Linked DNA regions of Homo sapiens: region 2 is linked to region 1. The links come from fine-mapping of genetic effects on gene expression. A gene starts in region 1. The other region holds a variant in brackets. All regions are shown on one strand. Distances are between the middles of the regions.

Evidence for each region.
Region 2: its variant is fine-mapped to the expression of CHLSN in blood mononuclear cells (TOPMed, PIP above 0.99). The same link has a PIP of 0.9 or more in lymphoblastoid cells.

The regions. Positions count from the first base shown.
Region 1 is chr7:1,135,017-1,143,351 of GRCh38, reverse strand. It overlaps CHLSN (cholesin), which reads left to right and starts at 5,105. Exons shown (of 5, transcript NM_001318252.2): 1 at 5,105-6,037. RefSeq lists silencers at 4,696-4,835, 5,036-5,485, 5,496-5,545 and an enhancer at 4,876-4,975.
Region 2 is chr7:1,022,608-1,030,942 of GRCh38, reverse strand. All of the region lies in intron 2 of CHLSN (cholesin), which reads left to right. It overlaps MIR339 (microRNA 339), which reads left to right and starts at 7,917; the gene lies at 7,917-8,010. RefSeq lists silencers at 1-117, 178-277, 2,167-2,946, 2,977-3,186 and enhancers at 1,930-2,663, 2,664-3,398, 7,249-7,806. The variant T/C (reference allele first, on the strand shown) is at 4,833.

The sequences.
Region 1 (8,335 bases):
CAAGGGATCCTCTCACCTCAGCCTCCCAAGTAGCTGGGACCACAGGTGCATGCCACGATGCCCTGGTAATTTTTAATTTTTTTTGTAGAGGTGGGATCTTGCTATGTTGCCCAGGCTGGTCTCTAACTCCTGGGTTCAAGTGATCCTCCCACCTCAGCCTCCCAAAGTGCTGGGATTACAGGTGTGAGTGCCCGGCCCTGTTTTTCATTTCTTTTGTTTGAGGATGTTGTTCTTTGATTTCTACCTCACATTGTTCCGACATCGGGATGGGGAGGCTCTGCTGACATGCAGTGTTGAGGCTGCACCCACTCCTGAGCTACATTATGACATCATCTTAGAACACATTAAAAGCTAAGATTTTCTTGCAATCGATGCTGCAAGAAATGCCTTTTAAAATGGCCTTTTTTGGCCGGGCGCAGTGGCTCACTCCTGTAATCCCAGCACTTTGGGAGGCCGAGGTGGGCGGATCGCGAGGTCAGGAGTTCGAGACCAGCCTGGCCAACATGTTGAAACCCCCGTCTCGACTAAAGATACAAAAAAATTTAGCCAGGCGTGTTGGCACGTGCCTGTAATCCCAGCTACTCGGGAGGCTGAGGCAGGAGAATCGCTTGAACCTGGGAGGTGGAGGTTGCAGTGAGCTGAGATCGTGCCATTGCAGTCCAGTCTGAGCGACAGGGCGAGACTCTGTCTCCAAAAAAAAAAAAAAGCTTTTTAGAGCAGCTCTGTAATTTTTCATTCTGGATGTTTCGTTCCACACTGAAGCTATTTTTGCAGATAGTTGTGCTGTGGTGAATCTTAAGAAAAAAATGAAACAGCAGTCCACTCAGAGGACCAGCGTTTCCCTCTTCTGGTTTCACTTAAACAGTCCCTGGAGAATGAGGGCAATTAGAAAGGTTACTGTTTCTATGGCAATTGGGTAAAAAGTTGATGAGATTCTAGATAAAATCGGCTGTTCAACAAGCCGGGGTCAGCGCACACAGTGCTGAGCAGTGTGATCGTTTGCAGGGGTGATTTGGGCCAGTCGTTTGGCTGGGTGTTCGCCCATTTCCCCAGGACTTCTGTGGCACCCACGCTTTGTCCATCACTCGCAGCCTCTGATTCCCTGTTCTGCGGGAGCCAAGCCTATCTTCCATCGTGCTACACAGCTGGGTCTCTTGGCGGTAAATCTTGGAAGTTCTGTCTGAAGCAGTGATTCCTAAACTTGTTCAGGTGTCAGAAACCCAACCAGTCTTGGCCTTCCACGGCCTACCAAGAATACAGCTGAACTGAGTGCTGCACATGCAGTGTTCTGCAACACCAGATGCATCAGATACTGAATCTAGCATAAACAGACAACAAGCATCCAAGGTGTGAGATGAAGTTTGTAGGAAGAAAGATACCGTGGAGAAAATGGTATCACTTTAAGCTTTGCTGTAAACGAGAAAAGCCAACTTAATCCAATTTGAGGGCCAGAGATCCTTGGGAGATGGTTAAGAGTATTTTGCAACAGTTGGGTTGATCAGCTGTGGTTCATGGTCTTATTAAAACAGCTAGTAACGGCCAGGCACGATGGCTCACAGCTGTAATCCCAGCACTTTGGAAGGCGGAGGTGGAGAGATCACTGAAGTCAGGAGTTTGAGACCAGCCTGACTGACATGGTGAAATCCTGTCTCTACTAAAAATACAAAAATTAGCCAGGCATGGTGGTGGGCGCCTGTAGTTCCAGCTTCTCAGGAGGCCGAGGCAGGAGAATTGCTTGAGCCCATGATGTGGAGGCTGCAGTGACTCGAGATCGTACCACTGCACTCCAGCCTGGGCAACACAGCAAGACTGTCTCAAAAAAAAAAGTTTCATATCTCAGGTGTCAATGATTTAGTGTTCAATAAAGTAGGAAATGAGTGATATAACTCCTTAATATTATAAAACTTGCATACCTCCTCAAACAATAAAAGAACCTAGTTAAGATAATAGGATATAAAACCAACACACAGGATCAAAAACCTTCATTCACACAAACAATAATCAGAAGATGTAATGGAAGAGGAAAACTCCATTTACAATGGTAATAAAGATAAAACACATAGGAATAAACTTAGGACATACGTAAGACCTATATTGGATAAAACTTTAAAACATGATTCATGAAGTATTATTTTGGGAAGAAAAGAGAAAAATGTGTGTTTCATGAAAGGTACAATAGTAGATGCAAATCAATGGAAAGACAGTCCTTGTTCTTGGAAGACTCAACAACCAAGAAAGACGGGTGCCAGACATGACGTGAGAGTATGTGAGGATGACCCTAGATAGCCTGACAAGGGTATCGCCTGAGAATGTGTGAAGATGACCCCAGAGAGCCTTACAAGGCTATCTTGTAAAGGATGTTCAGATTTACCTATTCAAGGCCCATCTTGAGCTCTCCCTGCCACAGCCCTGGGATCAGCCATTTCTCCCAGGAGCCCTGGTCCGTATTCATGGGGGATGGTATTTAGGAGCAGTGTTCTGGGTGCCAGGAGTGCTCAGTGCCACTGGGATGTCATTGCATCCAAGTCCTTTCAGCATTTCTGTATTAGTCAGTATTCACACTGCTATTCAGACATACCTGAGACTGGTAATTTATAAATAAAAAGAAGTTGAATGGACTCACAGTTCCACATGGCTGGGGAGGCCTCTCAGTCTTGGCGGAAGGCAAAAGGCACATCTTACATGGCAACAGATGAGAGAAAATGAGAACCAAGCAAAAGGGGTTTCCCCTTATCAAACCATCAGATCTCATGAGACTTACTCACTACCAAGAGAACAGTATGGGGGAAACTGCCCCCATGATTCAATTATGTCCCACCAGGTCCCTCCCACAATGCATGGGAATTATGGGAGATACAATTCAAGATGAGATTTGGGTGGGGACACAGCCAAACCATATCAATTTCCAAAAATAAAAATGAAAAAAAATTATTTTCCTTTTTTCCTTTTTTTTTTTCACCCAGGCTGGAGTGCAGTGGTGTGATCATAGTTCACTGCAGCCTCCATCTTCCAGGCTCAAGCAATCCTTCCACCTCAGCCTCCTAAGTAGCTGGGACTATATGCGTGCACCACCACACCCAGCTAATTTTCTATTTTTATTTTTGTAGACATGAGGTCTTACTGTTTGCCCAGGCTGGTCTTGAACTCCTGGTGTCCATCCATCCTCCTGACTCAGCCTCCCAAAGAGCTGGGATTACAGGCCTGAGTCACTGCACCTGGCCATGATTCACTTTTTTTTTTTTTTTTTTTTTGAGCTGGAGTCTTGCTCTGTCGCCCAGGCTGGAGTGCAGTGGCGCGGTCTCAGCTCATTGCAACCTCTGCCTCCCGGGTTCAATAGGTTCTGATGCCTCAGCCTCCTGAGTAGCTGGGATTATAGGTACATGCCACCATGCCTGGCTAATTTTTGTATTTTTAGTAGAGATGGAGTTTTGCCACGTTGGCCAGGCTGGTGTTGAACTCCTGACTTCAAGTGATCCATCCACCTCAGCCTCCCAAAGTGCTGGGATTACAGGTGTGAGCCACCGCACCCGGCCGACTTCTAATGAACAGAATATGGCAAAAGCCTAGGGAAGTCACTTCTGAGATTAGGGTGCAAGGAGACTGTGATGTGCGTCTTGTGTGTGCCTCCTCTTGTGTGTGCTTGCACCGTCTAAGGCAAGCCAGCTGCAGTGTTGTGAGCTTCCTTGTGGTAAGGCCCATGTACCAAGGAACTGAGGGTGGCCTTTGGGCAGCAGCCAGCAAGGCTGAGGCCCTTCTCTAATGACCTTGGAGGACTGAGTCCTTACAATATCCGTGTGTGTGAGCTTGGGAGTGGATCATTCCAGATAAGCTTTCCGATGAAACCACAACCCTGGGGGGACACCTTGACCACAACTTGGTGAACCCTTGAGGCAAAGGCACAGAGCTTAGCCACGCCCACTTTCCTGACCGCGGATACCATGAAAAAATAAATGTTCTTTTAGGCTGCTAAATGTTGGGTTAATTTGTTATGCAGAAAAAGGAACCAAATACAATCTTCTACCAGTAAGGAAGAGTGCACCTTCTTTGCTTGTCACCTTTGGATTCCTGAGGCAACGTACATCATACTTGATACGGCTGCCAAGCACTTAACTTACTGGGTGACTTGAAAGCATGCTTTTTTTTCTTTTTTTTTTTTAGACGGGGTCTGGCTCTGTTGCCCAGGCTGGAGTGCAGTGCCTTGATCATAGCTCACTGCAGCCTCCATCTCCCAGGCTCCAGCGATCCTCCCACCTCAGCGTCCAGAGTATCAGGAACTACAGGCACGTGCCACCATACCCGGCTAATTTTTATTTTTTTAATTTATTTTTTATTTTTTAAAACAGAGTCTCATTCTGTCGCCCAGGCTGGAGTGCAGTGGCACGATCTCGGCTCACTGCAACCTCCACCTCCCGGGCTTAAACGATTTTCCTGCCTCAGCCTCCCGAGTAGCTGGGATTACAGGCACCTGCCACCACGCCTGGCTAATTTTTGTATTTTTAGCAGAGACGGGGTTACGGGGTTTCGTCATGTTGGCCAGGCGGGTCTCGAACTCCTGAGCTCAAGCGATCCGCCCGCCTGGGCCTCCCAAAATGCTGGGATCACAGGCGTGAGTCACCGCTCCCGGACACAAGCATTATTATAACACTACCCACCCTGTGTATTTTTTAGCACCTATCCTGATTTTTTAAATTCAGCACGAAGTTTAAGTCCTAGCCCTGTTGATCCCAATAGCCGTAGCTCATCCATTTCGACTCCGAGCCGAGCTCCATACCCTGGACCCTCGGCGGAGGCCCCACCCCGGGACGCCAGCCCGGCCGGGGCAGCTTGCACCCCAGACCCCCAAGCCCTGCGGGGCCCAAACCTAGTCATCTGCACTTGTTCTGGGCAGGGCGGGTTGCCTTGGCAACCAGCTCCTCTCCAAGCAACTCTAGGCCTCTAGAGATGGCGTCAGTAGCCCGCGCCCGGTCCTGGAACCGCCCCCCGTGCTGCCGCCGCTTGCCATTAGCCGGCGGAGAGACGGACGCAGACCTCGTCCAATGGGAGGCTCCGCACTCCTGAAGGCGGGACTAACGCTTACCTGGGGCGCGGGTCCCTGCCGGAAGGCGGCGTCCGCGACGCAGCTGTTCACGCTTAGGTGGGCGACGTGGGCGCAGGTGGGCGCAGGTAGGCGCGTGGGGCGGCGGCGGGGTGGCCGGCGGGTCAGGGCGCCAGGAGACCCAGAGCCCCGGGGCGGGCTCCCGCGGGGCTCCGCCCCCTCCACGTGGGTGCGCGGAGGCCCGGCGCGGCGCGACCGGGCGGCGGCCCTGGGGTCCGCGGTGCTGGGGAGGCTGGTGCGGCCGGTGCGGCCGGTGCGTCCCGGCGCGGGCTCCGACACCCGCACCCGCCTCTGGGTTAACTCAGCGCGGGCGAGTGGAAGGGACTCAGCTGGCTCCTAGGTTTCAGGCCGTCAGGGCTTGCAGTGGCTCTGGTTTCATTGTCTTTCTCTGAAGACGCCCTGATTGCCCTCCGAGGCTTTCAGCTCCCACTTTCTCTTTTTCAATTTTTGAGGCAGTGTCTCGCTGTGCCACCCAGGCTGGAGTGCAATGGCGTGATCATAGCTCACTGCAGCCTCCACCTCCTGGGCTCAAGCCGTCCTCCCGCCTCATCCTCCCAAGTAGCTGGGACCACATGCGCGCGCCACCACACCCGGATAATTTTTAAAAATGTTTTTTGTAGAAATGGGGTCTCACCATGTTACCCAGGCTGGTCTCGAATTCTTGGGCTCAAGCGATGGATCCTCCTGCCTCGGCCTCCCAAAGTGCTGGGATTACAGGAGTGAGCCAACGCGCTTGGCCTCACTTTCCATCATAAGCATGCTTTCCGTTTCCTTCCTTCCGTCATTCATTCATTCATTTTTAAAAAACGTTCATTGGGTTCCTCCTGCACTGTTCGGGGCATTGGGCTACAGCTGTCAACAAGTGGAGACAAGTCTGTGATCTAGTGAACTTCCATTCTGGAGGGGAGAGACAGATGAACAAGGTGCACAGAGCAGGTGATGGTAAGTGCCATGGAGAAGATGAGAACAGGGGTTTTGAGAATGGAAAGGAAGCAGGAGGAGGAGTGAGGCACCAGAACATTCCAGGTCGAGGAAACAGCAGGTGCAGGGGAAACAGCAGGGAGCCCAGTGTGGCTGCAGCCAATTTGGGAACAGAGAGAGAAAGAGGAGGTGAGTTCCCAGAGATGCGAGGAGGGGCCAGGGCAGTCGTGTGGACCTTACCAAGTGGCAAGGACCTTGACTTTCCCTCCAAGTGGAAGGGGACAGCTTGGGAAGTTTTTTGAGTGGAGGTGACACACCATCTGATTTAGGAGTTTAAAAGCCATCGTGAGAGGTGGTGGCTTGGACTGGGTACCTATGGGATCTTAAGGGAGTCACATTCTGGGTGTATTTCAGTGGTAAACCAACAGGAGTTTGTGGTGGGTTGGACGAGTATGTGAGAAAGAGAGGATTTATGGATGGACCAAGGTTTTAAGCTTGAGCTACTATGTGAACCTCATCAGATGGATGTTTATGGAGAGGATGAACACTAGGAAGCTCAGGTTTGTGGAGGGTGATCAGGGGTATTGATTACGAATTCTTAAGCTTGAGATGATATATGTGTAGATGATATATATAAGTACATATATATGGTTATATATATAGTTATATATATACACAGTTTATACACACATCCGCATATATATATTTATTTTTATATATTTATATATATTTATATATGTTTATATATGTTTATATATGTTTATGTTTATATGTTTATATATGTTTATATATGTTCATATATATGTTTATATATATTTATATATGTTTATATATATTTATATGTTTATATATGTTTATATATTTATATATGTTTATATATGTTTATATATATTTATATATATGTTTATATATATTTATATATATGTTTATATATATTTATATATATGTTTATATATTTATATATATTTATATATATGTTTATATATATTTATATGTTTATATATTTATATATTTATGTTTATATATATTTATATATGTTTATATATATTTATATATATTTTATATATTTATATATGTTTATATATATTTATATATATTTTATATATTTATATATGTTTATATATATTTATATATTTGTGTATATATTTATAATTATGTATATTTATACATATTTATGTATATATATTTATATATTTATGTATATATTTATATATATTTATGTATATATATTTATATACACATTTATATAAATTTATATATACTTATATTTATATATATTTATATATACTTATATATTTATACATATATTTATATATACATATATATTTTATATATATATTTATATATGCTTATATATTTATATATACTTATATATATTTATATATATTTATATATACTTATATATTTATATATACTTATATATATTTTTATATATACTTATATATTTATATATTCATATATATTTTTATATATTTATATAAATACATATTTATGTAAATATATTTATATATTTATTTTATATAAATAAATAAATAAATTGTGTATATATATATATATATATATTTCTTTTTGAGGTGGAGTCTCACTCTGTTGTCCAGGCTGGAGTGCAGTGGCGCGATCTCGGCTCACTGCAACCTCCACCTCGTATTCAAACGATTCTCCTGCCTCAGCCTCCCGAGTAGCTGGGTTTACAGGCAGGTGCCAGCACACCCAGCTAATTTTTGTGTTTTCAGTAAAGATGGGGTTTCACCATGTTAGCCAGGCTGGTCTCAAACTCCTGACCTCAAGTGATCTCCCCGCCTCGGCCTCCCAAAGTGCTGGGATTACAGGCGTGAGCCACCGTGCCCGGCCATACACATACATATATATACACACATGTAGATATATGTGTATAAACAGTGTAAACAGAGGTCAGGAGTTCAAGTATATATATGTGTATATATGTCTAGGTACACATATATGACCATGTATATATATATAACTATATGTATATACATACAACTATAGCTATATATATACACAGTTGAGTTGGCGTGTAGTTGAAGGAGAGGGTTAATAAGAGACTGTAAAGAGAGGAAACAAAGTCATCAGCGTCTAGTTGGTATTTGAAGCCACATGACTGAATGGGATCACGAGGGAGTGAGGAGGCTGAGCACTAAGCCTGGGTCCTTCAGTGTTCAAGGACACGGCGATTAAGAGGTGGGAGCAAAAGCAGAAGTTCTGCTGTCTGTGCTGGATGCCAAGTGAAAAATGCCTGTCAAGAGAGAAGGAAGGATCAACAGTCCAACGCTGTTAGGTCAAATAAGTTGCATACTGAGA
Region 2 (8,335 bases), 110 kb after region 1:
TGGACTGGTGCGTTTGTGGAGGTGGTTGGATGTGCCGGTGCAGTAAGCAGCCTTGCACCTGCTGCTCTGTGTTGGGGCCCGGGGTGTGGGCTGTGGGAAAGCAGGCATGGTGGCACCTGCCCAGAGAGAGCCCCACCTGCCCAGAGAGTCCCACCTGCCCGGGGAGAGAGAGAGAGTCCCCGCGTGCCCCGGGAGAGAGAGAGAGTCCCCCCCTGCCCCGGGAGAGAGAGAGTCCCCGCCTGCCTGGGGAGAGAGTCCCACCTGCCCAAAGCCACAAGCCTATGTGTGCCTTCATGGGTCTGGGGACAGCACAGCCCTACAGGTGGGTCACTGGGCAGGACCTAGGAAGGCATAGCAGCTGGTATGTGTCCACCTTTGCTGGGCTTGGTTCCCCCTCTGTGAAGTGCAAAGAGCAGGGTAGCTGGAAGCGTGAGATGGAGTGGAGTGAAGCCCCTGGGTCCTCAGCCGGCACCACGTCCCCATCCCTGTGGGGCTAGTGGCCCAGCCCGGGGGACTGCACCCCACTGCCAGGCCAGCTTCTCCCGCTCCTGCTCTTGTCCTTGTCTCCCAAAGCAGCCCAGAGCCACCAGCACAGAACTACGGGGAGAAGAAACCTGGTCCCCGGGCTCAGGTGTGGAGGCGGGTGGCTGTGCGAGTTGGTGCGTTGGTGAAGACGGCATATGAGCAGGATTGGCGCGTTTATGGAGGTGGGTGGATGCGTGGGTCGTTGCGTTCGGGAAGACAGGTGGATGCGCGGAGTTGGCGCGTTCATGGAGGCAGGTGACTGTGTGGGCTGGCGCATTCATGCTGGGGACACACTGGGGAGTCAGCACACAAGGCCACTGGGGCTCAGAAGGCCCAGAATTGAGTCCCTCCCATGAAACCGGTGACTGAGCACACACTTCCTTCTCTGAAAGCGGGGTGCGGACACCAGTGGCAGAGACACTAAATCGGAAGCACTGCTGCATAGCCGCTGCAGGCAGTGGGCAGGACATCCCTTCCTGGCCTCCTCGTGTCCACCAGCTCCAGGAGGCCTCCAGTCCACCCTTGCCTGCCCCGCTGCCACCACAGAGCAGGCCTCTGCATGGGAACAGGCCTGGAGATGGTGAAACAGCTAGGAGGAAAACAGCCAGCCCCAGGCCTGACTCCGGCCTTGCAGATCCTTATTCAGCGGGGGACTGGGGTGCCCACACCATCTCCCCAGGCAGGGGTGGCCTCCAGAGCAGGGCCCCGCGACCAGAGCTCAGTGTGTCCTGGACCCTGACGCCTTGAGAGGGAGTCTAAGCCTCTCCTCGCCCTGGAACCGGCCCAGCCTCCGGGCTCACTGTGCTCTGGGTGGCCAGTGCGGCTCCCTCGCACCATAAAATTGATCTGCAAGGCAGGCACCGTGGTGCATGCTTGTAATCCCAGTCAGTGCTTTAGGAGGCCAAGGCAGGAGAATCACATGAGTCCAGGAGTTCCAGCCTCCTATGCCAGGCAACATAGTGAGACCCCATCTCTCCAAAAATTAAAAATTAGGCTGGGCATGGTGGCGCACCTGTAATCCCCGTACTTTGGGAGGCCGAGGCAGGAAGATCACTTGGGCCCAGGAGTTCGTGAACAGCCTGGGCAACGTAGTGAGACCCTGTCTCTACAAAAAATTTAAAAATTAGCTGGACACAGTGGTGCACTCCTGTGGTCCCAGCTACTCGGAAGGCCAAGGTGGGAAAATCACTTGAGCCCAGGAAGTTAAGGCTGCAGTGAGCTACAATGGTGCCACTGCACTCTGGCCTGGGCGACAGAGCAAGACCCTATCTCCAAAAACAAACAAGCAAAAAAACTGATCTGCAGTCTTAGTCCCAGGGCAGGGAACTCACAAGCCAGAAGAGATCTAGACGCCCTCTGTGTGGTGAGGAAAAGGCTGCGTGACTCATCCACGTATTCAGCCAGCCGGTATTGAGCACCTCCCCTTTGCTGGACACGTGGATGCCATGGGAGGGCTAGGCCTCTGCCTGCAGGGCCTGGGCAGGGGAGATGGGGGCAGACTGGGGGAGATGGGGGGACATGGAGTCAGACTGGGGAGAGATGGGGCAGATTGGGGAGATGGCAGACTGGGAAGATGGGGGTAGACTGGAGGAGATGGGGGCCATGGAGTCAGATTGGGGGAGCGATAGGGACAGATGGCGGCAGACTAGGGGAGATGGGGACAGACTGGGGGAGATGGGTCTATGGGGGCAGATTGGGGGAGATGAGAGGATAATGGAGGCAGATGGGGGAGATGAGGGAAGTAGGGGGACGATAGGGGCTGGGTGGGGGCGGTCAGAGGCAAGTACGTGCAGCTGGCAGGGGCCCTGCGCGGGCGGGGGTGCGCCCTCCCCGCAGTTCGCGCAGGTGGACCGGAGACCCGGGCGGCCAGAGAGCCTCGTCGGAGGAGCAGTGGGGGCTGCAGCAGGGTCCACCCCCGCCTTCTCAGCGCCGAGGCCCCGCCCCGGCTCTCCCACCCCCGCGCCGAGGTCCAGTCCCCGCAGGCGCGCTGGCGTCACGGTCCAGCCGGCTGGATCTGGTTCCAGCCGCGCCGGGCCGGCCGGGCATGCGCAGTGTGGAGGCGCTGAGGCTGCTGGAGGCGCGGGCCGGGCGGTGCGCACTGCGGGCGCATCCCTGCCCCGGCGCCGTCCGTGCCCGCGGGACCTGACAGCCGGGTCAGAGGTCAGTGCGCGGGGCCAGGGCCCGCATTCGGGCTGCAGGGAGGGGATGGGAGGGGCCCTGCCCCAGCCCCGCCCCGCGGCGACAGGTGGGCGCTCCCGTGGGAGGCCGTGGCGTCCAGACGCTGCTGCGGGCCCCGCTCCGCCCTGCAGACCCCGGGCCGGCCGAGCCGCGCTTCTCGGGGCTCCGCTGCGCGCCGGTCCCCGAGCAGGCCCTGGACGGTCCCGCGCCCTCCTCCCACTTACTCTCCTGGGGGCGCAGGGCCGGGCCGCGGGTGGCAGGGTGGGGGTCCAGGCCCTGCAGGCACTGCGAGCCCTCGAGCGGCCCCGCAACCGGCCAGGCTCCCCTGCGCTGTGGGGGCGGACCGGGCCCCCAGCCGCGATGCAGCAGCCCCCGGGGGAGACACGAGCTCTGAGGACCCTGGGTGGGCTGGAGTCGTCGGCCGCCGCGTGACCCTTGAGAGGGCCTGTGTCGCCCGCAGCGCCGCCTCGCCCCTCCCTGTGCCGGGGTAGAGGACCCCGTCGGGCGCTCGGAAGCCAGGGGCTTTCTTGCCTGAGGCAAGGCGGCCCCCACTGGCGCGGTGGGTGCTAGTGCGAAGCTGTGTCAACTAAAGCAAAGACTCATGATGAAAACAATTGGGATAGCTTCACTCGGGAGCCTTCCTGAGGACGGCGGAGCAGGCCGGCAGCTCCTTCAAGAGGCTCTGCCGCTGCTGCGTCGGGGCTCAGCCGGGTTTGGGTTGGAGAGCGCAGAGGTGCTTGGAGTAGGTCTTTTATCTTCTGAGGAGGCGGTGGCCCGGGCAGGTGGCGGCCCCGTGCTGGTCCTGCGCTGTGTCCTCGGAGCGTCCTCAGCTGCTGCGCGCACAGCCGGGGGCCGTGGACCAGGCGTCCGCACGGACACGCGAACCGGGCTGCCTAGCCTGCTGCTGGGCCTCACGGCTGCAGAGACGGCGGGAATGGTGACCGTTGCTTCAGAGTCCTTTGCTTATGAGTAACTCACCGAATTGACAGTGATTTTTATGAATTCGTTGTGTTCACTGAGGAGTTGTGGCAAAGTGAGAAAACCTAACCCGTACTTAGTTCCCAGATGTGAGTGTTTTAAACTATGTGTAACAACTAACAAAATTGACATGATGATACACTTCACGGACATTTAATTTTGATCCTGCCATTTCCTCATTTTAGAGGCGGTAACATGTTCTGGTTTTTTTCTCGTTGCTCAAACATCTTCCAGGCTCCTGCACGGCGGGTGCTGTGTCTCCGGGCCCAGGTGACCTCGGGGTGAGAAGGAAGGGGCCTCTGAGATGAGAACATAGTTTTGCTGTTTTCAGTTTATACTCAAAGCCCTGCAGTTTCCTGACAGCACAGAGCACACCTGTCACGCGAGCAGGATGAAGCCCAGAGGCTGCCTGGTGAAGTGGGCGGCGCGCTGGAAAATCCACGTAGCTTTGTTCCCTCCACGGGGAGCGTGCAAGGCCCTCTCGAGCACTACGGGAGCCTCGCCTTCTGCACAGACTTCGGAGCCAGGTGCTGGAGCGGCAGCAACTGAGGGGCGTGGATGTCTTTGCATGGTTCCCATACGTTTTTTAAACGTTAATAATGTGATTTTCAGTAAAGTGGCAGGATCAGCATTGAAGAATGGGGAGCAACTGTGAGCCGATTTCCTGCGAGTGGTTGAGAAGCAGGCTTTGTGTGGTTGGCCGTCCTTGTGCTTAGCGGCTGCTCCTGCCGGAGCTGCCTGCCTGTCTTAGAAACAACGCCGCCTCCGACTGCTAGTTAGCGGTGGCTTCCACAGGTGAAGCCCAGGCAGGTTAGTGTTCTCACAGCTAGGAAGGACACGGGCCTGGCAGGGAGCTGCAGCACAGCCTCTGTCGACACAGAAGCACTGCCGTGCGAACCCTTGCCTCCCGGGACAGCTGTTGCGCGCCCAGCAGCTGGAGCGCTGGCTCTGCGAGGGCTCTTCAGCAATGCCAGGTGCAGCTGGGCTCCACCCTCAACTGGTCCAATAGTAGCGAAAGAAACGAGGAGTGTCGTGAATCGTTAGACAGCGTCCATATGCCTAAGTTCAAATTGGAGCCGCCCAGCCCTACCTGTGGATACAAAGCTGCCGTTCAGTGGGGAGCTGGAGCCGAGGGGCCTATGTGACACCCC[T/C]GCATGTGGATGAAAATCACCCAGAGGCCCTGCCAACATTCTGGGAGGTGGCAAGGGGGCAGGGCCTCTGGGATCTGGGGTCACGAGTTCCAGGAGGCCTGCTTCTGCTTCTGCCCAGCAGTTCACTCTTCCCTCCACTGCAGCTGAAGCTTGAGCTGCTGCGGGGCCCACCTGGCCGGAGGCAGAAGGGAGCCCTCCGTCCCAGGCAGCGTCCTGGTGGGTGTCTGTCCTGTGCCAGACACTGGCCACAGAGGCTGAGAAAGGAGAGGACCCCAGCCTGCCTCTGGAGGCCCAGGGGAGGCAGTGAAGGGCCCAAGGCTGGTGATGCAGGAGTTTCCAGAGCGCAGGGAAATACAGAGCAAGAAACGCCAGCCCTCAGCTCCACTGGGGAGCCACGCAACCTCTACCGGTGCTGAGGGGTTACAAAGCTCTGTTACCAGCCCCATTCCTCCTGGATGGGCGAGGTCGGTCCGTATCACACCCCCAACCTCTTGTGCTCTGCGACCTCAGAATACACGGAGCTGTGTCCACAGGCCTCAGCGGCTGTGAGCCCCTCGCCTACACTGGGGGGTCCTCAGCTGACACCTGAGCCAGTGTCCTGTGCCCCAGTGGTGCCAGGGCAGAGTCCCCCTCCCTGACCTGACTTGTGCACCTCGTCACCCACCGCCAGCAGTGTCCCCCCACAACAGGCTTGCTCAGTACAGCACCCAACCCAAGTCCCCAGCACCCACACCCCAGTGAGTTTCCTGTGCCCTATAGGCTCAGCTGCTTCTCGTCCTCCCCCCACTTGGGATCCTTGGAACAGGGAGTGGTTCTTATTTAGGTCCCTGAGGTACCAAGCACAGGCTTTGCTCTTAGCAGCCGCCACTCCAGTGATGAAGCCGTTAGCAGACTGGCCTCTGCAGAGCTCTGCGGGGAGGTGCCTGGCTTCTCCGGCCTCCACCCTGGCCCAGAGCTGCCTCCTGAGCAGCGGATCCCAACCTGCCTGCCCCTGGGGCTGGGTCTCCAGCAGTCAGGACTGAGTTGTTGCTAGCTGCTGACAGGTGTGGGGCGAAGGGGGCGCATTTGCCGCATGTCCCCATTGGCAGCATCTCCACGCCTTCCCTTGTGACACCTCCAACCAGAATAGAGCAGGTATGTGGGAGCCCGCACCTGCTCCCCCAGCGCCCCGGGGTCGTCTTCTGCCTGCTCCTTCTGTCCTCCACACTGAAGAGTGTGCTCCAGCTGGGGATGGGCATGTGTGACGCTGGGGAATGGATACCTGTGAAATGGTGGAGTGTGCATCAAGTCTAAATAGCCGCTCGCAGGATCTGGGGGCTTTTTGTTTTCAGAAACCTGATCTGATCTTTATAAAAAGTGCTCCCCCACTCAGTCAGCCTGGGTGTCCCTCCCGTCCAGGCCAGCAGCGCTGTCTGGCTCGGCAAGGAGGGGCTGAAACTGGAGAGCCCCTGGGAAGGCTCTTGTGGGCCAGGTGGCAGCGGGGAGGGTGGCTCTTGTTCCCCGCCCTCATCCTAGCGTTCAGCAGACTGCCCCACACCACAGGTTTCCATTTTCACCCTTGGGTTAAGAGAAAAGCAGAAATAAAAAGTTTCTAATGTTGCTTGCGAAATTCAGCACTGGCCACCAAAGGCACCTGGGGCTTCTGCGTCTCTCTTGTCCCCTGGGGCTCCTGCGTCTCTCCTGTCCCATGGGTCCGTTTCTTGCTGTTTATTGCAACCCGCCTACATCGTTGGTGTGTGCAGCTGAACTCAGGCTGTTTAGGAAGCCCACGGGCAGGGCTCTGTGGGGCCCATTCCTGGTCCCACGTCTCTGGCAAGGGCTCCTCTTGAGCTGAGGCTTCTGAGCTCCTGCAGGCGGGAGTAGGGAGGCAGGTCCCACTGTCAGCCAAGCTGCAGGGTTTTTAGGAAGAAAGTGGGGGCTGTGCACCGTGGGCTCACACCTATAATCCCAGCACTTTGAGGCTGGCCGGAAGGATCGCTGTGGCCCAGGAGTTTGAAAACTCATGCCTATAATCCCAGCACTTTGGGAGGCCGGCAAGGAGGATCACTTTAGCTCAGGAGTGTGAGAGCAGCCTTGGTCCTATCTCTATAAAAAATTTAAAAACTGGCCAGGCATGGTGGCACATGCCTATAGTCCTGGTTGCTTGGGAGGCTGAGGTGGGAGGATTGCTTGAGCCCAGGAGGTCGAGGCTGCAGTAAACTGTGATGGTGCCGCTGCAGTCCAGCCTGGGCCACAGAGCAAGACCGTGTATCAAAAGGAAAGGGCTGCTGTGGAAGGGCCTCCAGTCCCCTGGCCTGGGCTGCAGGGGCCGCTGCTCCAGCCCTGCCTTCTACATGTGCCGAGATGTGAGCAGTCACCCCTGGAGATCCTCACCCCTTCTCTGTAGAACGAGGAGTTGGGCTGCCAGGGATTGGGGTCTGGGCGCGTTGCTGGTGTGTGTGTGTGTGTGTGTGTGTGTGTGTGTGTGTGTGTGTGTGTGTGTGTGTTTCCTGGGAGGAGGCCCCCACAGTCTTCGTCATGTTCTCCAGGGCCCAGTGGGAAGGAGTTGGAAGTTGGATGGAGAGAAATGTGGAGTAGGGCAGGAACCTCCTTCCTAGGAAGGAGCCTGCGGGGGACCCTGCAAGGGGTCCCAGGTTCCCAGGAGGCCTCGGGTGTGCTGTCAGAGGGGCGCTGGGGCTGGGAGTCTGTCCATGTCTTCAGCCTGGGTCTCGTGAGTTCAGGGAGTTTGAACCTGGGTGGAGAATGAGCCCCTGTGCGTCTTCCCTAACCTCCAGCTGACACGAGCTTCCGCAGACCCCGCGGTGGCGGGTGTGGGCGCTCCCCGTGCCATCTGTTGGGGACACCTCACACATCACTTGCGCTCAGCCCGTGTCGCGGCTGCAGGAGCCACCAGACCTTGTAAATACTCGGATGCCCACATCTGCTCGTCTGTGTCTCCCTGTGGCTGTGCATCAGACCTCACGCGTTTAAAACGTCCTTCTGAGAAGGGGCCACAGGCAGGTGCCACCCATTGCCACGGCACCATGGCAGGAAGCGTCCCATGCTCTGCAGGGGTGGCAGGAAGCGTCCTGTGCTCCGCAGGGGCGGGGCGGCCGCTCTCCCTGTCCTCCAGGAGCTCACGTGTGCCTGCCTGTGAGCGCCTCGACGACAGAGCCGGCGCCTGCCCCAGTGTCTGCGCCGGGACCATGGAGTGGCCAGCTCGCCGCGGAGACGTCGCCGCGCTTTGTAGCAGCCCCTGGACTCGTATGCGTGGGTCTTCTGATGCAGTGTGTTTTATTCGGTATCAACATGGAAGGGGGAGAGCATGGGATGTTCCACTGGTGTCCTAGGGAGGAAGTAACTGGGGAGGGAGGACGGTTGGGGGGGATTCACCTTTAAAGAATTTGAGAGCTTGTTTATTTTGCAGAATAAGAGTAAATTAATCCCCTGTGTGTTTCTGATCATTAAGAAGACCACATCGATGCTGTTGGTTGTGGGACTGTCATTTCAGAGTCCGGATCCGA